7 linked regions of the Homo sapiens genome follow. The protein of the gene in region 1 purifies or fractionates together with the protein of each later gene. This does not show direct contact. Each region holds a gene or a part of one and is shown in the gene's direction. Other genes may lie near its edges.

The links.
Region 2: the proteins of SHPRH (region 1) and BCL11A purify together in Homo sapiens (affinity purification with mass spectrometry, with the first as the bait; one large-scale study listed by BioGRID). This does not show direct contact.
Region 3: the proteins of SHPRH (region 1) and HAT1 purify together in Homo sapiens (affinity purification with mass spectrometry, with the first as the bait; one large-scale study listed by BioGRID). This does not show direct contact.
Region 4: the proteins of SHPRH (region 1) and SMARCA1 purify together in Homo sapiens (affinity purification with mass spectrometry, with the first as the bait; one large-scale study listed by BioGRID). This does not show direct contact.
Region 5: the proteins of SHPRH (region 1) and PWWP2A purify together in Homo sapiens (affinity purification with mass spectrometry, with the first as the bait; one large-scale study listed by BioGRID). This does not show direct contact.
Region 6: the proteins of SHPRH (region 1) and BCL11B purify together in Homo sapiens (affinity purification with mass spectrometry, with the first as the bait; one large-scale study listed by BioGRID). This does not show direct contact.
Region 7: the proteins of SHPRH (region 1) and NFAT5 purify together in Homo sapiens (affinity purification with western blotting; one study listed by BioGRID). This does not show direct contact.

Annotation. Positions count from the first base shown.
Region 1 is NC_000006.12:145,954,359-145,957,858, reverse strand, and holds part of SHPRH (E3 ubiquitin-protein ligase SHPRH), read left to right. Parts: intron 1-2,504; 5' UTR 2,505-2,536; coding exon 2,537-3,169; intron 3,170-3,500. UniProt on the Homo sapiens protein: E3 ubiquitin-protein ligase involved in DNA repair.
Region 2 is NC_000002.12:60,543,655-60,547,154, reverse strand, and holds part of BCL11A (BCL11 transcription factor A), read left to right. Parts: intron 1-854; coding exon 855-1,184; intron 1,185-3,500. UniProt on the Homo sapiens protein: Transcription factor. Associated with the BAF SWI/SNF chromatin remodeling complex. Binds to the 5'-TGACCA-3' sequence motif in regulatory regions of target genes, including a distal promoter of the HBG1 hemoglobin subunit gamma-1 gene.
Region 3 is NC_000002.12:171,925,461-171,928,960, forward strand, and holds part of HAT1 (histone acetyltransferase type B catalytic subunit), read left to right. Parts: intron 1-76; coding exon 77-181; intron 182-3,500. UniProt on the Homo sapiens protein: Histone acetyltransferase that plays a role in different biological processes including cell cycle progression, glucose metabolism, histone production or DNA damage repair. Coordinates histone production and acetylation via H4 promoter binding.
Region 4 is NC_000023.11:129,516,991-129,520,490, reverse strand, and holds part of SMARCA1 (SWI/SNF-related matrix-associated actin-dependent regulator of chromatin subfamily A member 1), read left to right. Parts: intron 1-1,843; exon of another isoform or gene 1,844-1,915; intron 1,916-2,043; coding exon 2,044-2,130; intron 2,131-3,500.
Region 5 is NC_000005.10:160,116,651-160,120,718, reverse strand, and holds the start of PWWP2A (PWWP domain-containing protein 2A), read left to right. Parts: upstream 1-1,268; 5' UTR 1,269-1,330; coding exon 1,331-1,914; intron 1,915-2,793; exon of another isoform or gene 2,794-4,030; intron 4,031-4,068. UniProt on the Homo sapiens protein: Chromatin-binding protein that acts as an adapter between distinct nucleosome components (H3K36me3 or H2A.Z) and chromatin-modifying complexes, contributing to the regulation of the levels of histone acetylation at actively transcribed genes.
Region 6 is NC_000014.9:99,230,698-99,234,197, reverse strand, and holds part of BCL11B (B-cell lymphoma/leukemia 11B), read left to right. Parts: intron 1-2,640; coding exon 2,641-2,853; intron 2,854-3,500. UniProt on the Homo sapiens protein: Key regulator of both differentiation and survival of T-lymphocytes during thymocyte development in mammals.
Region 7 is NC_000016.10:69,701,966-69,705,154, forward strand, and holds the end of NFAT5 (nuclear factor of activated T-cells 5), read left to right. Parts: 3' UTR 1-2,689; downstream 2,690-3,189. UniProt on the Homo sapiens protein: Transcription factor involved, among others, in the transcriptional regulation of osmoprotective and inflammatory genes. Binds the DNA consensus sequence 5'-[ACT][AG]TGGAAA[CAT]A[TA][ATC][CA][ATG][GT][GAC][CG][CT]-3'.

The DNA of each region.
Region 1 (3,500 bases):
GGATTTATGTTTTGATTTCTCTTGGATAAATACCTAAGAGAGGGATTACTAGGCTGCATAGTAAGTTATATTCAATTTTATTAGAAACTGATACTTTTCCAAAGTGACTGTGCTGTGTTCAAATGTTGGAGAGTTCAGTTCTGTTTGAGCCATACTCTCAGTGTTTTAAATTTTTGACTATTTTAGTATATGAATAGTGGCATCTCATTGTGATTTGTGGGTTGAATTTGTATTGCTTTAATGACTGATGCTGGTGAAAATATTTTCATATGCTTATTTTACACTTATAGGTCATCTTTGGTGAAATGTCTATTCAAAATTTTTGACTTTTTTAAATGTTTGTCTTACTATTAATTTGTGAGAGTTCTTTATATATTCTGCAAACATATCCTTCATCAGATACTTGATTTGCTAATATTTTCTCCCATCTGTGACTTGCTGTCATATTTTGATGACAGTATCTTTTGAAGAACCAAAATATTTAATTTTGATGAAACTTAGTTTATCATATTCTTACATAGTCTATGGTTTTTGTTTCCTGCTTAAAAATTTTTGTGCCTTTTTTTTGGGCTAATCCAATGTCATTTAGGTTTTCTCCTCTGTTTTCTTTGAGAAGTTTTAGTTTTAGCTTTTATAGTTTATTATCTATTTTTAGTTAATTCTTACATTTTAGGAGGTAAAGCTTCATTTCATTGCATATTGGTATCCATTTACTAAAAGGATACCTTTCCCATTGACTGCCTCTGAACTTCTTTCAAAAATCAATTGACCATCCATGTGTGGGTCCACTACAGGACATTTCCCTTGATCTATATGTTGGTCTTTACACCACTACTGCACCATTTTTATTTCTTTTGACATATGTCTTGGAATCAGTGTAAGTCATTCAACTTTATTTTTCTTTTCTAAAATTATATTGACTTTCCTGTATTGTAGGCATTTTAGTATAAATTTTAACATCAGGTTGTCAGTTTCTACAGAACAAACCTGTTGGAATTTTGAATGGGATTGCTTTTCTATAGGTCAGTACTAAGAAATTGACATCTGAACATTTTGAGTCTTCTAGTCCATGAACATAGTACACTGTATAGATCTCTGATTATACTGTTATACTATTTTCTAAATTTTTATGTATGCTTGAAAATTTTCAGAATGAAAGTATAGTAAGTTATCTTTTACAGAAATTTAAAAATCAAGAAAAAAGTTTACTATATTTATACACATATTTTTTGTTTTTGCTTTTTATTTCCTTGTGTGTGGATCCAGATTTCCATCTGATGTCATATTTCTTCTACCCAAGCGCTTCTTACATTACTTAGATTGTAGGTATACAGGTGATAAGTCCTTTTGGCTTTTGTTGATCTTTTTTTCACCTTCATTTTTGAAAGATATTTTGCTGGGTTTAGAGCTGTGGGGTGGGAGCAGTGTCTAAACCAGAGAAATAGGGCCAATCTGGAGAGAAGTCCTCACTTTTCAGTAATTTAATTATGGCATACCTTATTGTGATTGTTCTTTATGTTTGCCCTGATTGGGTTTCATTGAGCTTCTTGGTTTTCTGAGTTGATGGTTTTTATAGAAGTTGGAAAATTTTCATGCATGATTTTTTCAAAAAGTTTTTTGTATCCTTTCCATTCTTTGCTGCTGAGATTCCAGTTTTATGCATGTTTGACTCCTTAACATTGTCTAGTAGGTTTCTGATGTTCTATTTATTGTTTTTTCAGTCTTTGTTTATCTCTACTTCATTTTTGACAGTTTCTGTTGTTACTGTTGTTTCCATTGTTTAAGCTTATTCTGCTTCTTTTTTTCTTTGCCATTTCTAATCTGCTGGTAATCTCATACAATGTGTTTTTCGTTTTAGATGTTGCATTTCCATCTGCATAAATTCTATAGGAGTCACTTGTATATCTATCATTTTTCTTTGTCATATTCATGTTTTCCTCTACCTTTAACATATTGAGAATATTTACAGTAGCTGTTTGAATGTTTGTTTCTGCTAATTATATCATCTGTGTCTTTTCTGGGGCTTTTTGATTTTTTTCTTGTAATGGGTCTTATTTTTCTGTTTTATTTTCATTTTTTTTGCGTGCCTGATAATTTTAGATTTGATGCCAGACATTTGTGTTGGATTTTGTTTCGCTCTTTTAAGTATTGTTGGGCTTTGTTCTGAGGGGCAGTTAAATTACTTGGGATTGAGAGATTTACCTTCCTATTATATTGCTTATTAAATGTATTTCTACAATTTATTTTATTTTATACAACAAATTGCCTTTACTATTAAAGACTAGCAAAACCATTAGAATTTATTTGATAAATGAGATTATGGTTAATATGTTCATTCCTTAGTCATAATGACCTGGTAAAAAAATTACTCATTGCCTTATATCTCACAGAAGATTTCATATTATGTTTATGGGCTATGAATTTATGCTGAATTTCTCATCTGGTAACCCTTAAATACTAAATCATCTCTTGTTATACCTCCTGTTGTTTCATTTGTCCTCTAGAGTTCACAGTTACCAGCCAAGAAAACTTGAAAATGAGCAGCCGACGGAAACGTGCTCCTCCAGTGAGGGTAGATGAGGAAAAGAGGCAGCAGCTTCATTGGAATATGCATGAGGACAGAAGGAATGAACCTATCATCATAAGTGATGATGACGAGCAGCCCTGCCCAGGTTCAGATACCTCTTCTGCTCATTATATCATTCTAAGTGATAGTCTAAAGGAAGAAGTGGCTCACAGAGATAAGAAGAGGTGTTCAAAAGTGGTGAGCTTCTCAAAACCAATTGAAAAAGAAGAGACTGTTGGTATTTTTTCCCCTTTGTCTGTAAAGTTAAATATTGTGATTTCTCCCTATCATTTTGATAATTCCTGGAAAGCATTTCTAGGAGAATTAACTCTTCAGCTTCTTCCTGCACAGAGTTTAATTGAAAATTTTTCCGAAAGGAGTATTACATTGATGAGTTCAGAGTCAAGCAATCAGTTCCTGATTTATGTTCATTCAAAAGGTGAAGATGTAGAGAAACAAAAAAAAGAACCGATGAGTATTTGTGACAAGGGTATTCTGGTGGAGTCATCCTTCAGTGGTGAAATGTTAGAAGATTTGGGGTGGCTACAAAAGAAGAGAAGAATAAAACTCTATCAGAAACCAGAAGGAAATCACATTATCAAGGTACTCAGTTTTTTGTGGTGTCTTTTTTGAGGCTCTTCTACATTGGCAGTCCAATTTTAAATTAACTTGTGAGAGAAGTCTGAAAAGCCAGCAATAAGCCTTTCATTGTTAAGTTTCAAAGTACACTTTAAGCTTTTAATAACTATTCAAAGTATGTTACAACTAATCATTTTCAGGCTACACTTTTTCAAGATCTTCCATCTCTACTTTCAGTGACTTGTTTTGGTCCTCATCATCAGTTCCTCTTACTGCAGCAGTCATTTAACCATTTATCTGTTTGCTATTTTGCCTTTTCAAATGCTTCGATTTTGTCTCTGGAATTGTATGATTG
Region 2 (3,500 bases), on another chromosome or scaffold:
AAACATGTTTAGAATATTATAGGCATTCCATTTCTCAGAATAAAAAAAAAATGACTAATTGGCTTATTTTCTTAAGTACTCAAAAGTATCCCATTTAGCTAATGTGTCTGAGAAATACTGCCCGTGCATTTGGTATTTCTTTGATTTTGTGGCACTGCTGAGAGTGAGAGCAGAAAGGTTTTTGGCAGTGTGAATTATGCTGCGACATGATTATTATTTAGATCCGTTTCATAGGTGCATGCAGTCGTTTTCTTATTACAGCAGTGTAAATGTGGCACATTTTTCATGTGACATAGTAGCTTTCTAATTTATGAAGCCATGTCTGTTTACTTAGGAGTATATACATTCACACACAAAGGGTGTGTGTGTTTATTCACCTCTCCTTTCATTCTTTGGCACAATGGACAACTTGGTGTATAGGAAAAAAGAAACAAATTTGGTTTCTATCCACTTTTTTTTTTAACCAGTTTTTCTTGTAGTTATTATTTAAGCTTTCTTTATGTTCCCTGTGTTAACTATTTAAGTAGCATTCTTTCTAAACTTACAAACCAGACACATTTGTTGCTGTGGGTGTGTGCATGGGTATATGTGTGTGTGTGTGTTCTCTGGAGTTATGCAAGGAAGACTGTTTTCTTTACATATGTGATGATTTGCCTCATTGACAAATTTGCTCTCTGGTTGATAACCTTCACATCCTTGTACTTTTTGTATGCTCACATTTTCTGGGTATTATATAGAGAAGCCTAGAAACACTTTACATGATGTGGTGGGATGGCATGGGGTTGAGATGTGCTTCTCCCCTTTCTGTCCTCTCTGGCACTCTAATAATTGTGCTTTTGTTTCTCCAACCACAGCCGAGCCTCTTGAAGCCATTCTTACAGATGATGAACCAGACCACGGCCCGTTGGGAGCTCCAGAAGGGGATCATGACCTCCTCACCTGTGGGCAGTGCCAGATGAACTTCCCATTGGGGGACATTCTTATTTTTATCGAGCACAAACGGAAACAATGCAATGGCAGCCTCTGCTTAGAAAAAGCTGTGGATAAGCCACCTTCCCCTTCACCAATCGAGATGAAAAAAGCATCCAATCCCGTGGAGGTTGGCATCCAGGTCACGCCAGAGGATGACGATTGTTTATCAACGTCATCTAGAGGAATTTGCCCCAAACAGGAACACATAGCAGGTAAATGAGAAGCAAGGAGAAAAGCTGTTTGCATGTTTTCTTTTCATTTTCAGAGGTGCTGTAGCCAAGCAGTAAGGAGTTGTGAAGTGCTTTCTCTATTACTCTATGTGACTGTCCATGACAGCCCTGTAATGTTAAAATAATCATTTCTGTTGCTTACGTCCAGAACACAGAAAAATAAATATTTTCCACCTCACTGAATCAGATGTAGGCAGGATAGGTACACACATCAGACACCTTCTCTCTGGATCTGTCGATTTTGGATTTCTTTTCTTCCCCATCCCCACCTTCTCATTTTGAAGTATTGAGCTTTACTACACCTAGTCCAGCTTCCATTGTCCATTTCCAGCCTTGGTGACGTGTCAGAGGCAAAGTGGCCATATAGGCATTTGCAGTTCAGCCAATGACTTGTTTGACTCAGAACATCTGGCCAGGCCTCCTTAGGGGTTCAGCTCGTTCTCAAGGCTTCCCTGAAGTAGAGTGGGCTGGCAGGGTAGTTGGAGGTGGTGGAAAGAGTTAACTGAGCTTCAGGGCTAGCCTTGGATCCATATTGGCTGTCAGCCCGGATGGGGCTGTAATTAAACACAGCCCCGTGGTGGGATGACACCATGACCTTGACTTTAAGATGCCATTTTCGACTGGCCAGGCCAGAGTAGAGAGGGCAGTTGCTGAAGCGCACAGACATGCTTACTCGAAAAGTTTAAGGGCATGTTGGAAATTTCAAAAGGTTGGTTTGACAGGAACGGCTGCTCCCTGCAGCCTGCCTCCTCAGCTAAATGATAAATGCTTCTCTGTGCTCTCTCTTGTCTCTGATGTGGTTTTGACAGATGTATCTTGATTTTGTTTGTGGTTTACACAGCCACATGTCACCCTTACAAATGTCCAGTCCAGACTCCACTGTTTCTGCTATAACACAATGTAAAAATTTTCTTGGAAAAATACACACACGTATTCAACAGCCCTCCCTCCTTTGGTTAATTTTAGCAGGGAGGCAGCTAGGTGTGTGGGTTTCTCGGCAGCTCAAGGGAAAAGGAATTAAAGGCTAGCAGTGGGACTTAAATTCCCTTCTCTAAGTGATAAACAGTAACACTATATAGTGACCCTCAAAACATTTTTTGCTTGAGCATGTTAGACAAAAGTCAATGCAGATTCTGTGATGACAGACATGCCATGCCTGTTGGTGGATCGCTTTCTTCCATCTACCTACCACCCAGCTCCCGAAAGGCAAGAGGTTTGTTCAGTTTTAGGAAAGGTAGTGCATATCATGAATTGATTCACTGGAACTTGTCTCTCCGACCTAGTTTGACCACAAAGTTGAACCATAATAGGTCAGTGGTCTAGAGGGGATTAAATGTCATATTATTTCTCCTCTCCCCCTCTAGAATTTGATCATTAAAACCAAACATGGCATTTTCTTTCTTTTTTTAGTGCTTTCTGTGATAGCACTCAGATACTTTCCCTTTAGTGAAATGGGAAATCTGCTGCTAGGGAAGCTGCATTTGTGGAGTGTATTTCTTGAATCCACCACATTTACCTTATGTGACATGTAGGTGAAGATTTTATCTCCCCTACCCCCCAGCAGGATGTGGGAATGACCATTTCCATGTGTTGTCTTGTGACTGGAAGGAAAATGAACAGAAGTGTAAGGCATGATTAATGAAGCAAGAGCAGGCGGAAGGGGATTTGTCGTCTTCGGAGATCCAAAGCCTTGCTAAATCACCAAATATGGAGTAACACTTGCGTGATGTAACATCGTATTTACATATCGAGCTGCTCGTTTAAAAGACAAAACACAGTGTCTGTCAAGCAAGAATTAAAACCACACTTCTTACTGAGGTCCCAAATAGGTTATTCAGTCTTAGATTAACCAGCTCAAAAATTCTGTGCCTCTGTATTTAGAGGAGGAATCTAAATGCTGGGGGGAAGGCCTTACATATAGTTAAGACTTTTACTGCTATAGTTGTGAATCTATGTAGGGAAATAAGAGATATTTGCTTGAACTCCCTGGTTGTCTAAAGGTTCTGTTATTATTTTTTTAAAGAACAAGTATAATAGCAGAGCCTAGAGAAGCCAAAACCAAAAGCAAATTTAAAATATATTTTATAGCGCTAATAATCAATCATTTAACTGAGACGAAAAGCTCTCTAAGATGTCTAAGATATTCAATGGGCGCACAACAAGTGCTGTGACCCAGGTGAGGTAAACCTTTCGTGCATGAATAATTACAAAGTCTTGATTTCTTTCATTGTGTTTAATCACCTGTTCCCACCCTGGAACTGGCTGAACATAAATAGTGTGGTCACATCTCAAAGTGAG
Region 3 (3,500 bases), on another chromosome or scaffold:
CTTATAATAACCCTATTGCAGGTTTGACAATTTAAGTCACTTCCAAACTAAACCTTTTAAAAACCTTTTCTCTTAGGATTTGGTGCTATGGAGAAATTTTTGGTAGAATATAAGAGTGCAGTGGAGAAGAAACTGGCAGAGTACAAATGTAACACCAACACAGCAATTGAACTAAAATTAGGTATGTATGCCATTTCTAAGTGATGTTATGTACATACTGTGTGTGTATATATAATCTTTCATTTTAAATTTGAAGTAAAATTTTATGTAAGAGCAGTTATTTATGCAAATGTATGGTTTTCTGCATTTATTGAACATATTCAGATTTTATTCAGTTTTGATTTATGTCATGGAAGGTGTAGATGTTTGAAAGGTGACAGAATTTTATATAAAAAGGAAAGACGGTGGGGCAAAAAGTAATAAGTATATATAGTTTTAGCCTCTTAAAAATATTTTTTACTTTTTTGCCTGTAAGAATAATAAACAATAGCAAATATTGGTGAGGATGTGGAAAAAAACACTTGTATATTGCTGGTGGGAATGTAAAGTGATATAACTATTTTGGAAAACAGTTTGGCAATTTTCTTTTCTGTCTTTTTTATTTTCTTTCCTTCCTTCTCTTCTTTCATTTCCTCCCCTCACCCCTTTTTTTTCTTTCTTTCTTTTTTAAAGAGACAAGGAAGGTCTCACTCTATCACCCAGGCTGTAGTGCCACGGCATGGTCATAGCTCACTGCTGCCTCCAACCCCTGGGCTCAGGCAGTCCTTCTGCCTCAGCCTGCCAGGTAGCTAGGAGACCACAGGTGTGCACCACCCAAGCCTGGCTAATTTTTATAAAAAATTTTTTTTTTGAGACGGAGTTTCACTCTTGTTGCCCAGGCTGGAGTGCAATGGCGTGATCCTGGCTCACTGCAACCTCCACCTCCTGGGTTCTAGTGATTCTCCTGCCTCAGCCTCCCGTGTAGCTGGGATTACAGGCATGCGCCACCACGCCCGGCTAATTTTTTGTATTTTTAGTAGAGACGGTTTCTCCATGTTGGTCAGGCTGGTCTTGAACTCCCAACCTCTGGTGATCTGCCCACCTTGGCCTCCCAAAGTGCTGGGATTACAGGCATGAGCCACCACGCCTGGCTTATAAAAATTTTTTCATAGAGATGGACCCTACGTGTCTATGTGTCCAGGCTCATCTTGAACTCTTGTCTTCAAGCAGTCCCCTGGCTTGGCCTCCCAAAGTGTTGGGATTATAACTGTGAGCCACAGCGCCCCTCCTGGTTTGACAGTTTCTTAAGAAGTTAAACATAAATGAATTATATGACCCAGGAGTTATACTGCCAGGTATCTGTCTACTCAAGAGAAATGAAAATGTATGTTCACGCAAAAACTTGTACATGAATGTTCATAGCTGCGTTATTCACAGTAGCCAAAAAAATGTAAGAAACCCAGATATATATCAGCTGGTAAATGAATAAAGTATAGTATAGCTATACCACGGAATACTATTTGACAATAAGAAGGAATGAAATTCTGATACCTATTGCAGTAAACCTTAAAAAGATTGTGCTAAGTGAAAGAAACTAAACAAAAACACCATATATTGTGTAATTCCATTTGTATGAAATGTTCAGAAAAGACACATCCATAGAGACAGAAAGTAGTGGTTGCACAGTGGAGCGCAGAGTAACTACAAATGGGCCTGACATTTCTTTTGGGAATTATGGAAATGTTTGAAAGTTAGATTGTGGCACAGCTCTGAATTTGCTAAAATTTTACACTTAGAACAAGTGAAAAATAATATATGCTCATGATTCCTGGTTGCATTACTTTCCATGCCTGAGTTTCCTCATTGTTAATAGTACTTCACAGTGGTTACAAAGATTAAATATGGAGTTAAATATCAGTAAAGTGTTTAAACTCCTTGACATGCAGAAAATACTTGGTAAGGGCTGAGTGGAGTGACTGGATGTGGTTGCTGAGATCTGCGTATTTTTTTTACATGTCCCCTCATTTTTCAATTACTTCATTCTTTGATAGTTTGATTACCTTGGAACATCCTGTCATCTGTTGTCTCTGCCCCAGCCTTGGAATCAGCCATTTCTCCAAGGATCCCTGGTTTCTTTTAGTAGGAAATGTTATTTTATTTTATTTTAGAGACAGAGTCTCACTCAGTCGCCCAGGTAGAGTGCAGTGGTGCGATCTTGGTTCACTGCAACCTCTGCCTCCCAGATTCAAGTAATTCTTGTGCCTCAGCCTCCGTAGTAGCTGGGATTACAGGCATGTGCCACCAGCCCTGGGTAATTTTTTTGTGTTTTTAGTAGAGATAGGGTTTCGCCATGTTGGTCAGTCTGTCTCAAACTGACCAAGTGATCCACCTGCCTCGGTCTCCCAAAGTGCTGGAATTACAGGCATGAGCTACTGCACCCAGCCAGGAAATGGTTTTTTATTTTGAGATGGAGTCTCACTCTTGTCACCCAGGCTGGAGTGCAATGACGCGGTCTTGGCTCACTGAAACCTCTGCCTCCTGGGTTTAAGTGATTCTGGTGCCTCAGCCTCCCAAGTAGCTGGGATTACAGGCACCCGTCACCACACCCAGCTGATTTTTGTATTTTTAGTAGAGACGGTTTCATCATGTTGGCCAGACTGGTCTCGAACTCCTGACCTCAGGTGATCTGCCCACCTTGGCCTCCCAAAGTGCTGGGATTACAGGCATGAGCCACCACCCCCAGCCACAGGAAATGATATTTTAAAGCCAAGATTCGGGTGCTAAAGCCAAGATCTAGGTGCTAGGTGAACACATTGCTGTTAGTATTGCTCTAGCATTAATGAGAGCAGGCTTAGTAGATAGAACTTTATTACTTACTGTTCAGTCCCTGCCACCTGCAAGGTGACTACAGTCTCATTTCTTTGACCAAAATTAGCTTTCTGTGTTCTAGCACTTTATATAAATGGAATTATACCATATATACTGGCTTTGTGACTGGCTTGTTTCATTAAGCATAATTTTTATGAGGTACATCATATGTTGTCTGTACCAGTAGTTCATTCCCCATTTTTTTTGTTGTTGTTGTTTGAGACAGAGTCTCACGCTGTTGCTTGGGCTGGAGTGCAGTGGCATGATTGCGGCTCAATGCGATCTCCACCTTCTGGGTTCAAGCGATTCTCCTGCCTCAGCCTCTGGAGTAGCTGGGATTACAGGCGCCTGCCACCACGCCTGGCTAATTCTTTTGTATTTTTAGGAGAGACGGAGTTTCACTATGTTGGCCAGGCTGGTCTCGAACTCCTGGCTTCATGATCGCCTGCCTTGGCCTCCCAAAGTGCTGGGATTACAGGCGTGAGCCACCGTGCCCGGCAGTTCATTCCTTTTTATTGCTGAATACTGTTCTGTTGTTGGATACATCATTATTCGCCAGTTAATAGATATTTGAGTTGTTTCTAGTTTTTGGCTGTTATTGTATGAGTTTTTTTGTGGACATATGATTTTATTTTGGATAAATTCCTAGCTGT
Region 4 (3,500 bases), on another chromosome or scaffold:
TGAATGAGAGCGCTTTCATGATGAATACAGTAGATGAGAATTAGTGAATTGACCTGTGACATTTACCTACTCAAAGGTGTTTTTGCTTACTTTCTGGTTGTTGAATTTAGTTGGTTTAAGTGACGGTTGGATTACCCAACACTGTAGACATGAAAACGTCAAGAAAAAGGTCATGGTCTTTAAAACAAGCCATTTTGTTGACCTTGTGCTGCATTCTCATGGCACCTAGACTCAGATAACAAAATCCAAAGGAATTCATTAGAGTCTCTTAGTCACTTTTCATCTTTTCTTGTATGAAAAAAATGTAGTTTTGAGAATACACACACACACACACACACACACACACACACACGAGAGAAGGTTTAGAAGGTAGGTATTTTAAAATTTGTTGTGGAAGATAGTGCCAATTAAGTAATTACCCACAGCTTTTAATAGCCCTGCTCAAGATTAGGATTTTAATTAGCATATAATTAGATTTTGATGGTAGTCTACCGCAAGGTAAGCAAAAAAGTAATGGGTAAAATGTTTTTCTAGGATTAAAGCTTTAATTTTCTGTAAGTGTACTTCCCACATTATTATATATATTTGTGCGTATGAGGCAAAGTAATTTTCATTGTTTTGATACTGGAAAACTGCACTTCATATAACCTTTCAAGGAATGAATGATAAACGTATGGATTTGATACCCAATTTTTCTTGTTGCTTTGAAAATAAATATGATTTATATTATATATGGCAGTCTGAAAGTGTGAGTTTGAGGGGCTCTTTAGCAGTTTTCTATTCTCATCCATCCAGGATTACATTCAAAACATTCCATATAGATGTGTACGTATCAGATGCTGTAAATCAAGATGGTTATTATTTGGGTTAGTGTAACTGAATGATATCTGATCAGTGCTACAAAGTAAGAGTCTGGACAAGGTCAAATTCCATAATCTCAGTTTGGATTTCCTCAAAATAGAAATTTTAGTAAATATTGGAAGACATAATGGGGGCCATATTTTTCTTATGTTTAAGGTCACATTCTGTTGATTTTTGACCTAAGTTTTCATAAATAGGTTGACAAAAGCCATGATAGTTTTCACGAACAAATTTGTGTTTTCTCTTATGCAAAGTATGTGTTAAAACTGAAATGCTCTCATCTTTGGTTCTGGTGGGTAGATTTGTGTTTTTATTATTTTATTTCTTGGTTTCTTATAGGGAAGGAGGCTTATTCTATATATGTATTTATATTTGCCAGTACAGGCTTGTCTTTACAAAGGATAGGGTGCATGAGATAACCCCCTTCCCCAGATAATCTCTATATTAAGTTATTGATTGATGTTAGTTTTCGCTAAATTACAATTTAAAAATATCAAACATTAATAGTTAAGTAGCCTTGACAAATTGCTTCTACAAGATGTTTATGCAATATAAATAGTTTAAAGTAGTTTTCTTCCCAGTTAGAGAAAATTAACATAAGCCAAAAGTTTAAAACTGTACTATTATATTAAGTATATGTGATCACATTGCATTACATAAAAAATTAAATATTCTTATAATACTATGAAAACAATTTTAAAAATATCGTTTTAGGAACAGAAACCACAGTTTTTTTTTCTGAAAGTGTGGCGTATTTCCATGACATAAAGGAGTGTTTCTTAGAATTAATATTTACTTTCTTTGAATTATTTGGTTTGTGGTTGATATTAGCCTTTTCTAGATTTTAAAATCTCTTATTTAATGTTTACACATTTTCTTACACTATAAATTAAAGAATGGATGAGAAAGCTCAGTGTCTTGCCTTTTGGGTTTTATTCCAATTAATATTTCTTTGGCATTCACAATTTTTCAGATTTTTTTTATTGGACCTCAGGTGTACAGAACTGGATTAATCATAAGCCTTGTTTTGTGACATGCTCTCATCATTGGTCCATACATGTCCCACATTGATTTATATATTTAGTTATGTAATTACTTTCCGCCTTCTTCTAATGAGAGCATTGACCAGTTTAAGAACCTTGCTTTGCAATTTGGTGACATTTATTTTCTTTGAAATTCTAGAAAAACGTTTCTTCATTTCAACTCAAACTTGCTGCTAAAGCGCCTAAATCTGAAAAGGAAATGGACCCAGAATATGAAGAGAAAATGGTAAATGTAGTCTTGGATAGGATAGTGAATGCTGTAATTAATTTTTATAGTTGAGATGTTAAAGATGAAAAAATACATGTATATATATAATGCATAGAGAATCATTGATTTTAGAATTGGAAAATAATTTAATATACAATCTATCACAATATTTTCTGTTGAATAAATTAACCTCCTCATTTTCAGATGAGGAAATAAAGGATCAGGGAAGCTATATGTCATAGTTAGGACTAGAAGTCACATCTCATTTTGGTTCGGTGCTCTCTGTCCCATAATAAAGTGCTTTAAGCTAGAAATATTTATTTATGAGGTGAAAATATCAGTGGTAATACCACTGTGGCTTTGTGACCTGAGAGAAATCCAGTCACAAAGCCAGATTGACGTATTTTTGTTTCTTTCTCCTTCTTTGGACATATGAATAAATGCTACACATTAATGAAATGTGTAATATGTCAATACACTTTAAAGGGAAGAATATTTGTCCAATGCATGAAGATATCACATATTTAAGCAGCATAATCTTAGTTATACTTACATATTGCTTGCTATAATACATTTAATTATTTAATTTTTAGTTACTAAAATACATATTTTAGCTTTAATTTTAACTAAACTCTTATAACCTTGGATCTTTCAAGAATTTAACAGGTGGTTGAAATGGATTTTTTTTTCCTCTGAGGGGTTGTTTTTGCAGTAATATTATAAAAATAAGTATAGATGAAATATATTTTTTGGTTGTTGATAGCTATTTTATAAGACTTAATGTTTAAGGCCACATCTAATGTAGGTAGGCAATGTTTTAACAACTCTAAAAATAACATTCCAGTGAGGATAATATAAAATGGAAAGTTTTTGGCCTCCTTCCAGCTTGTAGTCTGAATTTATCTAACTCTTATGTTTATGTTAATGAACTCTTCTGTAAGTTTTCTGGGTTATTAATTATGCATCCTTCATTAGCAATCAAGTATTCTCTACTCTGTGGTTGGAAAGTGACTTTGAATAAATAAATAGTCTTTATTTTTTCCTTTATCTAGAATGATGTATATATCTTTTGATCTTTTAAGATTTTTTTAGTGAAACAAAGTTTTATTGCCTGTATATGGTACACGTTCCCTGACCTTTTACAATTTATTGAGAAATTAGAATACATATCAACTTTTAATAGTTAATAAACTATTTCACATATATGTGCATATGTTTATATATTTTTCCCAAATTCTGCTTACTTTGGGGAGAAAGTTTATACGCTACTAGCACAAAATACAGTTTTCTAGATCCCTGTGAGTGAAGAGAGGAGTGTTTATTACATTACTATACCATGACACTGAAAATATTTTGAGACAAGATGATACTGTATTTTAAGATTTAAG
Region 5 (4,068 bases), on another chromosome or scaffold:
ATGCTATAGTGTTTGTATTAGTGCCTGGTACATGGTACTCAAAAGACACTAGCTGTAATTATTCTTCAGGACTTTATTTTTTTTACTTTCATTGCTAGCAGTTTTTCTACCCTCTCTCCTGCAGGCATTCTCCCAGAAAAAAGGCTGACTCTGTGGTGCCATTTGAGAGAAATAGGTTCAGTAGATTCTTCCAGAGATGACAAACGAAAAGACTTGATGTGGAAGTAAGAGAAGTAGGGGCGTCAGGACACTGAAGTGAGAGATCTTTTGTTCTCGTGGCATTGGAGAAGCCAGGAAAGAAAAAGGCTTTAGCAGGGACCAGGTGCGTCCACTTTGCAAGTGGATTTGGAGAGAACAAGCAGTGTTCACATATCAGTCCAGCAATGTCTCAAGACTCCTTCCTGGAACAGTCATCAGTTTAATCCAGTGAGGATGGTGTCTCTCTTCTTTCATGAGCATTTTCCTATTTCTGAAATATTAATAAATAGGTGCTTTGTTCCTAGGAAGTGGAGAGAAGTCAAGGAAAATACTCATCATACTCCTAGAAGTCAAGGAAAATACTCCTCGTACTCCTCATGGCCGCTGGAGCCCGCTGCTATGAGGTTATGGAGAACGTCTTGAACATTCCATTCCCCAGCACCTAGTGCAGTGACTAGCATAGTAGGCACTCAAAAAGTGTCTGTAGGATTGTATTTCAAACTTTAGTTGTCTTTCCCAAAGAAGCCTGTCGTGCCCACACGCGGCCGCAAGAAGTCCGCGCCTAGAAATAACATTTATTCTAAGGATCTCTGCGCAGAGATTCTTGGGAAGCGGTTCCCCTCCCGCATTCCCTTGTTACTCCTCCCCTCGGCCGCCTTTGAAAGAAGTGGCACGCCACATGATTCCATCCTTTCTCCCACCTCCAAAGACCTGGCTGATAATGGGCAGGAGCGTAGGCCAACCATAAAACTTTATTTCCTCTTCCAGCCAATAGCAAGAGGCGATGAGTATATGGCTCCTCTTTTGTGACTTCCCCCGCCCCCTTTGATTCCGCCCCCTATTCCTCCACTCAGATTCCACACTTGACAACACATCTGGCCAATGAGAAGTTCCTACTCTGCGTGGGAAGGATGGACTGACTAGATGATAGACGTCCATCCCTGGCCAATGGAATATCAAAAGTGCGGGAGGGGTGTAGAATGCAACCAATGGCGAGGTGCCAGAAACGAGCATCAGGGAAAGGGCGGGACGAAAGTGTTCGCGGGAGGGAGGGGAAGGCCCAGGGAACCAAGCAGCGCTGTCGCCGCCGCCGCTGCAGCCGGAGTTGGAGGAGGGAGAAGCTAGGAAGAAAATGGCGGCCGTGGCTGCAGAGGCGGCAGCGACTGCAGCGTCCCCCGGGGAGGGGGGCGCCGGCGAGGCCGAGCCGGAGATGGAGCCCATCCCCGGCAGTGAGGCCGGCACTGACCCCCTCCCGGTCACGGCCACTGAAGCGTCTGTGCCGGATGGCGAGACTGACGGGCAGCAATCCGCTCCTCAGGCCGACGAGCCGCCGCTCCCGCCGCCACCGCCGCCGCCGGGGGAGCTCGCCCGCAGCCCAGAGGCGGTGGGGCCGGAGCTGGAGGCTGAGGAGAAACTGTCCGTTCGGGTGGCGGAGTCGGCGGCAGCCGCGCCTCAGGGAGGGCCGGAACTTCCACCTTCTCCTGCATCGCCGCCGGAGCAGCCCCCGGCTCCCGAGGAGCGCGAGGAGCCGCCGCTGCCTCAGCCCGTAGCCCCGGCGCTCGTGCCGCCGGCGGGCGGGGACTCCACGGTGTCGCAACTGATCCCGGGCTCGGAGGTGCGGGTCACGCTGGACCACATCATTGAGGACGCGCTTGTCGTGTCGTTCCGCTTCGGGGAGAAGCTCTTCTCCGGGGTCCTCATGGATCTGTCCAAAAGGTACCGCGCCCGCCCCCAGCACCCTCCGGTCCGCTGGGTCCCCAGGGAGGGAGTGAGCCCGGGCGGCCCCCTCTCCCCGAGCCCTCGCTTCCCCGCTGCCCGGGGCCCCGCCCTCTGGTCCTGCGCGGCGCGTGGCGCGCGCTCCGAGTGGGGCAGGCGCGCGAGACCGGGAGAGGGCGGTCCCGGCCCCAGGTGGGCGCCTGCGGGGCAGGTGTGCCACCAGGTGGGAGGGTGCAGGTGCAGATGGGCTCACAGGTCTCACCCCTCACGCCTGGTCTTCTTCTGCGACTTGGCCTGGAGTCACCGTCACTGGGCGGGTGGGTTAATGCAAGATGCAGATGGATTTTTGCAGAGAACGGAGTGTTGGACGGGGGGACGGGGGGGCGGGGGGCATTGCTTGCGAGGAGGCACTTGTCTGTCCTCTAACGTTTAACTTTAGCGGGATTGGAGAAAGGGGTGTGTACATTGGGGTTCCCAAAAGGTTACCTGTCACTCCTTACAGGGGGAAGAGCATTTGTTAAAATGAACCTTTTAACTGTAATTCTTACGGTTAGAAGTCATTCCCGTTAGGTTAACCATTCAACAGAGAAGCATATTTTGCTAATTTTAATGATAGTTTAAGAAAAGTTTAAAGAAGAGATTGGAGATTTTTAAAAAATCCTTTAATGTCAAGGTGGTGTAGCATAAAAATGTTCAAGTAACTTCTAACACCTGGGATTCAGTTTATGTATTAAGGACAAGAAGGTTGAGTTCATCTACAAATTTGGCTTAACCACATTTTCATTTTTTGATTTAAAATGTTTTTGGGCTCTGCTTTCAACAGGGGAAGAGAACCTGTTCTAAGTCTGGAGTTAACCTTTTTATTCTCTTCTTTTGCAGATATGAAGTGCAGAGACTCCCATTCACGGCTTTCCATTCTGTTTCCTGCAACAGCACACGCTCTGATCGTATCTCACCTGTTTGCAATGGCTTATTAGTATGTTTTACTCTTAAACTTGCTTGCTCTCCCATCAAGACCCAGGAATCCTTCTTTCCCATTTGGGGAAAAAAGCCATTTAAAATTTCATATTGAAGTATGGTGTTTGAGGGGAAAGATGAGAGCAGTTATTCTGTATTATTTAATCTCAAATATCTTTTTTTTTTTTTTTGAGACGGAGTCTCACTCTGTCACCCAGGCTGGAGTGCAGTGGCGCCATATCGTCTCACTGCAACCTCCGCCTCCTGGGTTCAAGCGATTCTCCCGCCTCAGCCTCCCAAGTAGCTGGGACTACAGGCGTGCGCCACCATGCTGGTCTAATTTTTGTATTTTTTAACTAGAGCCGGGATTTCACCATGTTGGCCAGGCTGGTCTTGAAATCCTGACCTCAGGTTATCCACCCGCCTCAGCCTCCCAAAGGGCTGGGATTACAGGCATGAGCCGCCGTGCCCGGCCTCAAGTATCTTTTTTAAAAATAATTTTGGATTAGGGCATTTGCACTTCTGTTTATGTTTGTTTGTTTACTTATTTAATAGAGACAGGGTCTTGCTGTGCTGCCTAGGCTGGTCTCAGACTCCTGGGCTCAAGCGATCCTACTGCCTTGGCCTTCCAAAGTGCTGAAATTACAGGCGTGAGCCACTGTGCCCGGCCTGCACTCCTGTTTTCATAATTAGAAAGCAGAATAAGGTGAGTGTGCTTTCTATTGATGTATTTTATTTATTTATTTATTTATTTATTTTTGAGACAGAGTTTCGCTCTTGTTGTCCAGGCTGCAGTGGTACAATCTCTGCTCACTGCACCCTCCACCTCCCTGGTTCAAGTGATTCTCCTACCTCAGCCTCCCAAGTAGCTGGGATTACAGGCATGTGCCACCACGCCTGGCTAATTTTGTATTTTTAGTAGAGATGGGGTTTCACCATGTTGGTCAGGTTGGTCTCAAACTCCTGACCTCAGGTGATCCACCCACCTTGGCCTCCCAAAGTGCTGAGATTACAGGCATGAGCCACCTCGCCCGGCCTCTACTGATGTATATAATAGTAAGAGACACTCTGGTGTGTATGCTGTTGAATGAAACAGAAGAGATGGCCAGTGATTGTGTGAGAATCTGGATTTCAAATCTGCAAAAGGAAGGTGCAGAAGGTAAGTTGTTTTTGGAAATGGAATGGATAAGTGCTCAT
Region 6 (3,500 bases), on another chromosome or scaffold:
AGAAACTCTGTGCCCATTAGCCACCCCTCACACCCCTACTGGCTCCCCCCAGCCCCTGGCAACTGCTACTTTCTGTGTCCGTGGATTTGCCTCTTATGAACATTTCGTATCCATGGAGTCATGCCGTAGGTGGCTCCTTTCATCACTTTGGGCTTTTGCAGTAGCTTCAGATTTCTTGAGTTCCACCCTTGGGAAGGGCTCTGGGTTTGAGCTGCCCCGTGTGGAAACCTCTCCCAGTGTAGAAGGTGCTCTGGGAGCCCCAGAGAGGCCCTGTAGAGCTTGGGATTTGAAGCCCCTCTCCCGGCTGCCCCCCTCCCCTGCCTCAGTTGAGCCGGTCCCTGGAGCAGGTGGACTTCAGCAAGGTCACAATTGCTAATGAGACTCTGGGGAAACCTGTCCAGGGCGGCCTACCCCCTGACCCCTATGCAGGGAACAACGTGTGGTGTGTGACATCGCCTTTACAGACCCTGGTCTGAGCCCCACCTTGGACGTTTCCAGGAGAAGGGTGTGGCCAGATGCCTGTTTTCTACCTGCTCTGCAACGGTTCCTCCCACCACGGAGACAGAGTCAGCTTCTTAGCACCTGGGACAACCCTTACCAGGCCTCGAGCTGCTTCTGCTGGTTTCTCAGTAGTGATAAATGGTGCTGGCTGTGTCGTGGCCTCACCCAGAACCCAGGAACCAGAGCCTGGGTTTGGCCTTTGCAGCTTCCAATGGCTGGATTGAGCCCAGGGATCTCAGACTTCCGCCCACTATGTGGCCGTTGCTCTAGAGATCCCAGGACCCCTGGTCACTTACCCAGCTGCAGCCCTAGAGGGAAGCAGAGCATTGCGGGCTTCGGGGACACAACTGGGTTCCAGTCTCAGATCTCCCTAAGCCTCAGTTTTCCCCCAGTGGAATGTGGATCTTTTCTGAGCGAGGTGGCTGTCATGATGATGGATGACCCAGAGCCCTCGGTGGTCTGCAGGGAAGGCCTACATAGGGATTTGAGACCACCAGTGGACAGGATCAAATGCAGTGTCCAGTGCTGGAAGGTTCAGGCTAGGGCAGGCTTCCAGGAGGAGGCAGGTCCTGACCTTCCTTGAGGGATGGCACTAAATCTAGCATGGCCTTCCCCTCAGCATCTGAGGCTGAAACTGTTTACTGGTTCCTCAGCCACATCCTTCCAGGGCTATCCCCAGCTCAGAAATACCCTGGGCCCGAGGCCTCACCTAGTATGAGGTCTTTGTTGGTTCAGGGGGTTCCGAGCAGTGTTGGTGTTAGCTTTGACCTCTTGACAGGACACTGACAGCTTGCAATCCCTAAGCAGGGGGTCTTCTTAAATGCCCTGATGCCTTGATCCTGGATAACCCATGTTTTAGAGAAACCAGGGCTACAGAGAAAGAGCCCTGGTTCTGGGGCCAGACAGCTGGGGTTTGGATGGGGCTGCTGATGTCTGCAGTTTTCTGCAGTCACGCCATCAGTTTCCTGGTCTGTGCAATGGGTATTCTAAGCCCCAGTTCCCGTCAGTGTGTTAGGAAGTTCAGTCCAATGAAGACTGACAGGCTCCTGGCTCCTGGTGGCTTGCAGGGTCCTGTGGCTCTCCTTGCGATGGGGGAATCCACGTGGGGGCCCTGGAGTGGGCAGACTCCCACCCGTGCAGACCTGTGCTGGGCCTCCCTGGCAAAGCCGGCTGGGCCCAGCTGCCCATCCTCTTGTTGACGTTTCCTTTTTGTCTCTCTGATGCTTCCCTGCTCAATTATTTACCCAGGGAATTTGGGCTTCTTCACTTGTGGTTTTGGCAAGGGCTTCACACAAATGTTTTGCCCTGGTGGTCTCTTAGCCATTTAAGATAAACGGCTAAATCAAATGCAGGCCTTGCTGTGGAGCTGAGCGAGCTGTGGGGCTGGGCAGAGGCGGGGCCGGCCCTGGCCCTGTGTCCTTGCTGTCACATGGCGGGAGGCCTCCCAAGCCAGGCCGAGACGTTAGGAGGGGGTGAGCAGCGCCAGGGTTTTCTTGGGGTGTGGTAGGGGGGTGTGAAAGCCTTCTGAAGGGCATTGCGTTTTGGGTGCAGCACGCTCAGTGCTTGGGGCTGGAGAGAGCCCCCAGCTGGTGGTCTGCCAGACAGGAGGCTAACAGAGCCCAGACACCTGGAGGCGGACCCAAGGCTGGAGGCGGACCCAAGGTGTCCCGGGCCTGTAGGAACAGCCCATCCTGATACAGCAAACAGGGGAGGCTGTGAGCTTCCCAGCTCTTCCAGGGAGGGGTAGCCCGAAGTTTTGGAAACAAATCCCCAAATGGAACCTATTTGATTGCTCCAGAGGCCCCCACGTGGGGGGTCCTTCCTGAGAGTGGGTCCTCACAGCCCCCGTTCACCCAGCCCCCTGCACCAGGCCCCCAGAGGCGGGGTCCTGCCTCCCCGACAGCCCAGCCTGGCAGCTGTGGAAACCGGGCCCTCCCCAGTGCCCCCTGCCCACCTCCCCGAGCCCATTCCCTCGCCTGTGTCCCGATTGCCTTCCCTGCAGGGCCTGGCACCCCGGGGGCCTCCCACCCCCGAAGGGTGGCCTGAGCAGAGCCCCACGCCCCGAGCCCCGTCCCACCCCGTGCCCCTCACACAGTCCAGGGCCCGACTGACCAGTCTTTTCTATTGTTTTTTCTCCAGGGCCGTGCAGGCCTGCCCAGCTGCCAGCGGTGGCCCCCATAGCTGCCTCCTCCCACCCTCACTCATCCGTGATCACTTCACCTCTGCGTGCCCTGGGCGCTCTCCCGCCCTGCCTCCCCCTGCCGTGCTGCAGCGCGCGCCCGGTCTCGGGTGACGGGACTCAGGGTGAGGGTCAGACGGAGGCTCCCTTTGGATGCCAGTGTCAGTTGTCAGGTAACAGACGACGCCGCGGTGGGGGGCGGGCCCCCGGGATGGCGGGGTGTGCCATGGGCAGCGCTGGAGCAAGGTGGGGACCCAGGGAGGAAGGGCAGCTCCCACCCAGAAGGCTTTTTGGGGTGCCAGGGGAAGTGGTAAAGAATGTTCGCTGAACTATGAGCCAGGGCCCGGTGCCCCTCGGTCAGGAGTCCCCCACGGTGCCCCCACCCGTTCTGAGAGTCTTGCTCCCAGAATGCATTCCCCAGCCTCCCAATCCCGCTTCTTTGGGTTGTTTAGCGACAGCTTAATTGGATAACACTTAACATCTGAGGTTTTCTTCGGCCCTTGCCACTGCCACCCCCTCCCCCACCCCAGACAATCCCCTGCCCCGCCAAGACCAGGCTAGGGGAAGATTCCTTGGTTGACTGTGTACATTGCTGGAGCCGTCCAAAATGCTGAGTTTCTCTTTGGGAGAATGTGTTGCCCATTAGCTTTGAAAAAGAAAAAAAGTGGCTCAAAAGGAGCCTCTTAAAAAGCTGTGGCCACGAGAGGGAGTGAAACACTGTGAGGTGTGTGAGGGGTGGGGGCGGGGGCTGAGTACCTGCTGTGCGTCCGGCTCTGGGCCAGACCCAGACACAGCTGTTTGTGCCGACTCATCCTGCTCT
Region 7 (3,189 bases), on another chromosome or scaffold:
TGGTTTTTGTTAATTTTGCCTCTATTCCAGCTCCTTACCACAGCGGTGGTGCTTAAAGAAAGGATCATCAGCAACAGGTCAGGATAGTTCTACCTTTGGGATAGGGCTGCTTTCCCCGTGCTAGTATTTCTGTGACTGTTAGTGGCACTGAGGACTGCAAACTTTTATGCAATATTCTTAATACCCTATTGATATTATGCACTTTAATCATTCCAAAGAAGCCAAGAATGCTGTATAGTGATGATTCCTTCCTAATGAATTCATCTTAACTATTTAGAATGTTATGTCCCTTTTCTTTTGGATAGCCAACTTGGTATAAATGTTATATGGATTTTTCTAAAATGACTATATAGGACTTAAGACTTTGAAATGTAATTTACTTATAAGGGGAAATAATTATGCTTTAGCACATCATTTTAGAAACGTCACATTTTAGAAACATTCAGCTTGCTAACCTACATGTTTGGGAATTCATTAAAACCAGTTGTCTATATATTTTGTGCCATGTATATAAGAACATTACAATATATCTTTTTCTACATATGTAGTATGTGCAACCAGTGGTTCTCAGAGTATGGTTCTCAGCCCACCAGCTAGTATCAGTATCACCTGGGAACTAGTTAGAAATGTAAATTCTTTGGCCCCATCCCAGACATACTGAGTCAGAAACTCTGGAATAGGGCCCCCGCAATCTGTTTTCACAAGCCCTCCAGGTGATTCTGATGCACACTTTAAAGTTTAGGAACCACTGGGCTAAGACTCTGTTGAGATATAGAGTTTTTCTTCCACTCAGACTGATATAGTTATACATTGTTCTTCATGTAAATTCAGCTTAACCTGGTTATCTATAATCTTTTATTGGCAAAAGTTAATTCTCAGTACTGCCTATAGAGATACAGTGTATTTTATGTACATACACAATTAGTCTAATTCTTGATAATTCAGTTAATTTAGTTTGGCATTTTCCTACCACTTACTAAAAGGTTTACATTAAATGACTGATTTAAATATATAGGTGCAATGTTCTATGTTTATTTTAATTGTTATGACATTTAAGTAGCTAATATAATTGACCGGTGCTAAAGTCTCCTGTTTATCCATAAAATGGGTACATTATGGGCAGTGTAATACAAGCTTTCTTTTCATTGCCTAGTACTTTACCAGCAGACCACAGTTTTGCCCTGGCTAGACCAACCCTCAGAACAAAATCATCATTCCTTGTATTTATATTTGTATCTGAGATAGTAAACAAGATGGCTGGCCAGGTCAACATGGCACCTTAACTTATTTTTTTAATAGGTAAAACTTCTTCAAAAGTAGCTTGCTTTGTATAAGAACTAAGCTATCAGTATAGATATAGCTATCCTTGGAGCTTATGTTTCAGACAAGAATTATTTACTAAAATAAATAATAAACAAGATAATGCATTATACAATTTGGGCATTTCTCGTTTCTCAAGTGTATGCATCATGGTAAATATAAACTAACCACAAGATAGGTAGATTGATTCATTTCATTTTAATCTCCTTGTGTAATTCAGTACCTCCATAATTGTTCTAATCTTCTTCCCACTGTTTACAAATTACCAGTTAATTAACTCGTGAAAGAAAAATTCACATATCAGAATAAAAATAAATGTATACTCACTTTATAAAAATCACCACTGCTGTCTTTCCTTAATACTAGCAGTGGAAATGTAAGTGGCTTACTCTACAAATTTTGGTGCTGGCAAATACATAGGCAAACTGTTGGGAGCTGCTCTAGTTACATTCCTCCCTTCTTATTCCCTTTTTCTCTTCCTCACTTTATTGCATAACATATTCCTGTACCCAAAGCATTCTACCACAGTTCTATTTGACTCCCACTTGTAATAACTCCTTTAAAAAATTCCATGTTTAACCATATGACCCTGCTTGCTTACTCATATTCTCCCTCCCTCTCCCCTTCCTTTCTCTCTCTTCCAGAAGTCATTTGCCTGGTTTGAAATATTTTGTAGGGATTGCTTATTATATTATTTTAGCTGATGAACCTCAGGACAACGTCTACACACACACACATACATACACGCACACAAAATCTCAGCTGTTGAAGAGTGGGCTTGGAATCAGACTTCTGTGTCCAGTAAAAAACTCCTGCACTGAAGTCATTGTGACTTGAGTAGTTACAGACTGATTCCAGTGAACTTGATCTAATTTCTTTTGATCTAATGAATGTGTCTGCTTACCTTGTTTCCTTTTAATTGATAAGCTCCAAGTAGTTGCTAATTTTTTGACAACTTTAAATGAGTTTCATTCACTTCTTTTACTTAATGTTTTAAGTATAGTACCAATAATTTCATTAACCTGTTCTCAAGTGGTTTAGCTACCATTCTGCCATTTTTAATTTTTATTTAATTTTATTTGCTTGAGCACACTGATCAACCACTGAACTGCCTTCTTCCATTGTCCTGCAATGATATAAGGGTTACATTTTTGTGTATATGGCTTTCATAGTTGGGATTTCAGAGCACTGATACCAGATATTTTCAGTTTGTTCTCTGGGGGAATTTCATTTGCATCTATGTTTTTAGCTATCTGTGATAACTTGTTAAATATTAAAAAGATATTTTGCTTCTATTGGAACATTTGTATACTCGCAACTATATTTCTGTAAACAGCTGCAGTCAAAAATAAAACACTGAAAGTTTTCATTTTGCAGTGGATAGCTGTCTTTTTTTTCCTCAAACTTTGTGAATGGAATTGTGTGCATGAACGACAGTTTTGAGCAGCATGAGTATATGGCTGAAATTATAAAATCATTAGGGAGGAGGTGTGAAATATAGACATATTTCTGAGTAGTTATTTTGTGCCTACCATTTTGCCAGGTAGAGTATAAGTGACTCAGTGTGACAGAATTTTTGTTTTACGTATAATTTAAATGTTTCATGTTTAGTAAAGCAATACATATACACGGAGGTGCTTTTGATGAAAACCAAGTCTCCCCATCCCTTAGTCCCATGCCCAGAGACAATCTCTGTTTATTCTTTTGGTGTTATTTCTACATCTCTAAATTAGCGCATATCAGAGTGTGGTACACAACTACCCGTGGTACGTGGATAAACACTATTTTTAAACTTACATGTATAAGTGTTTTGATGCGTAATAGAAAAAAATATAGGCTGGGCTCAGCGGCTCACGCCTGTAATCCCAG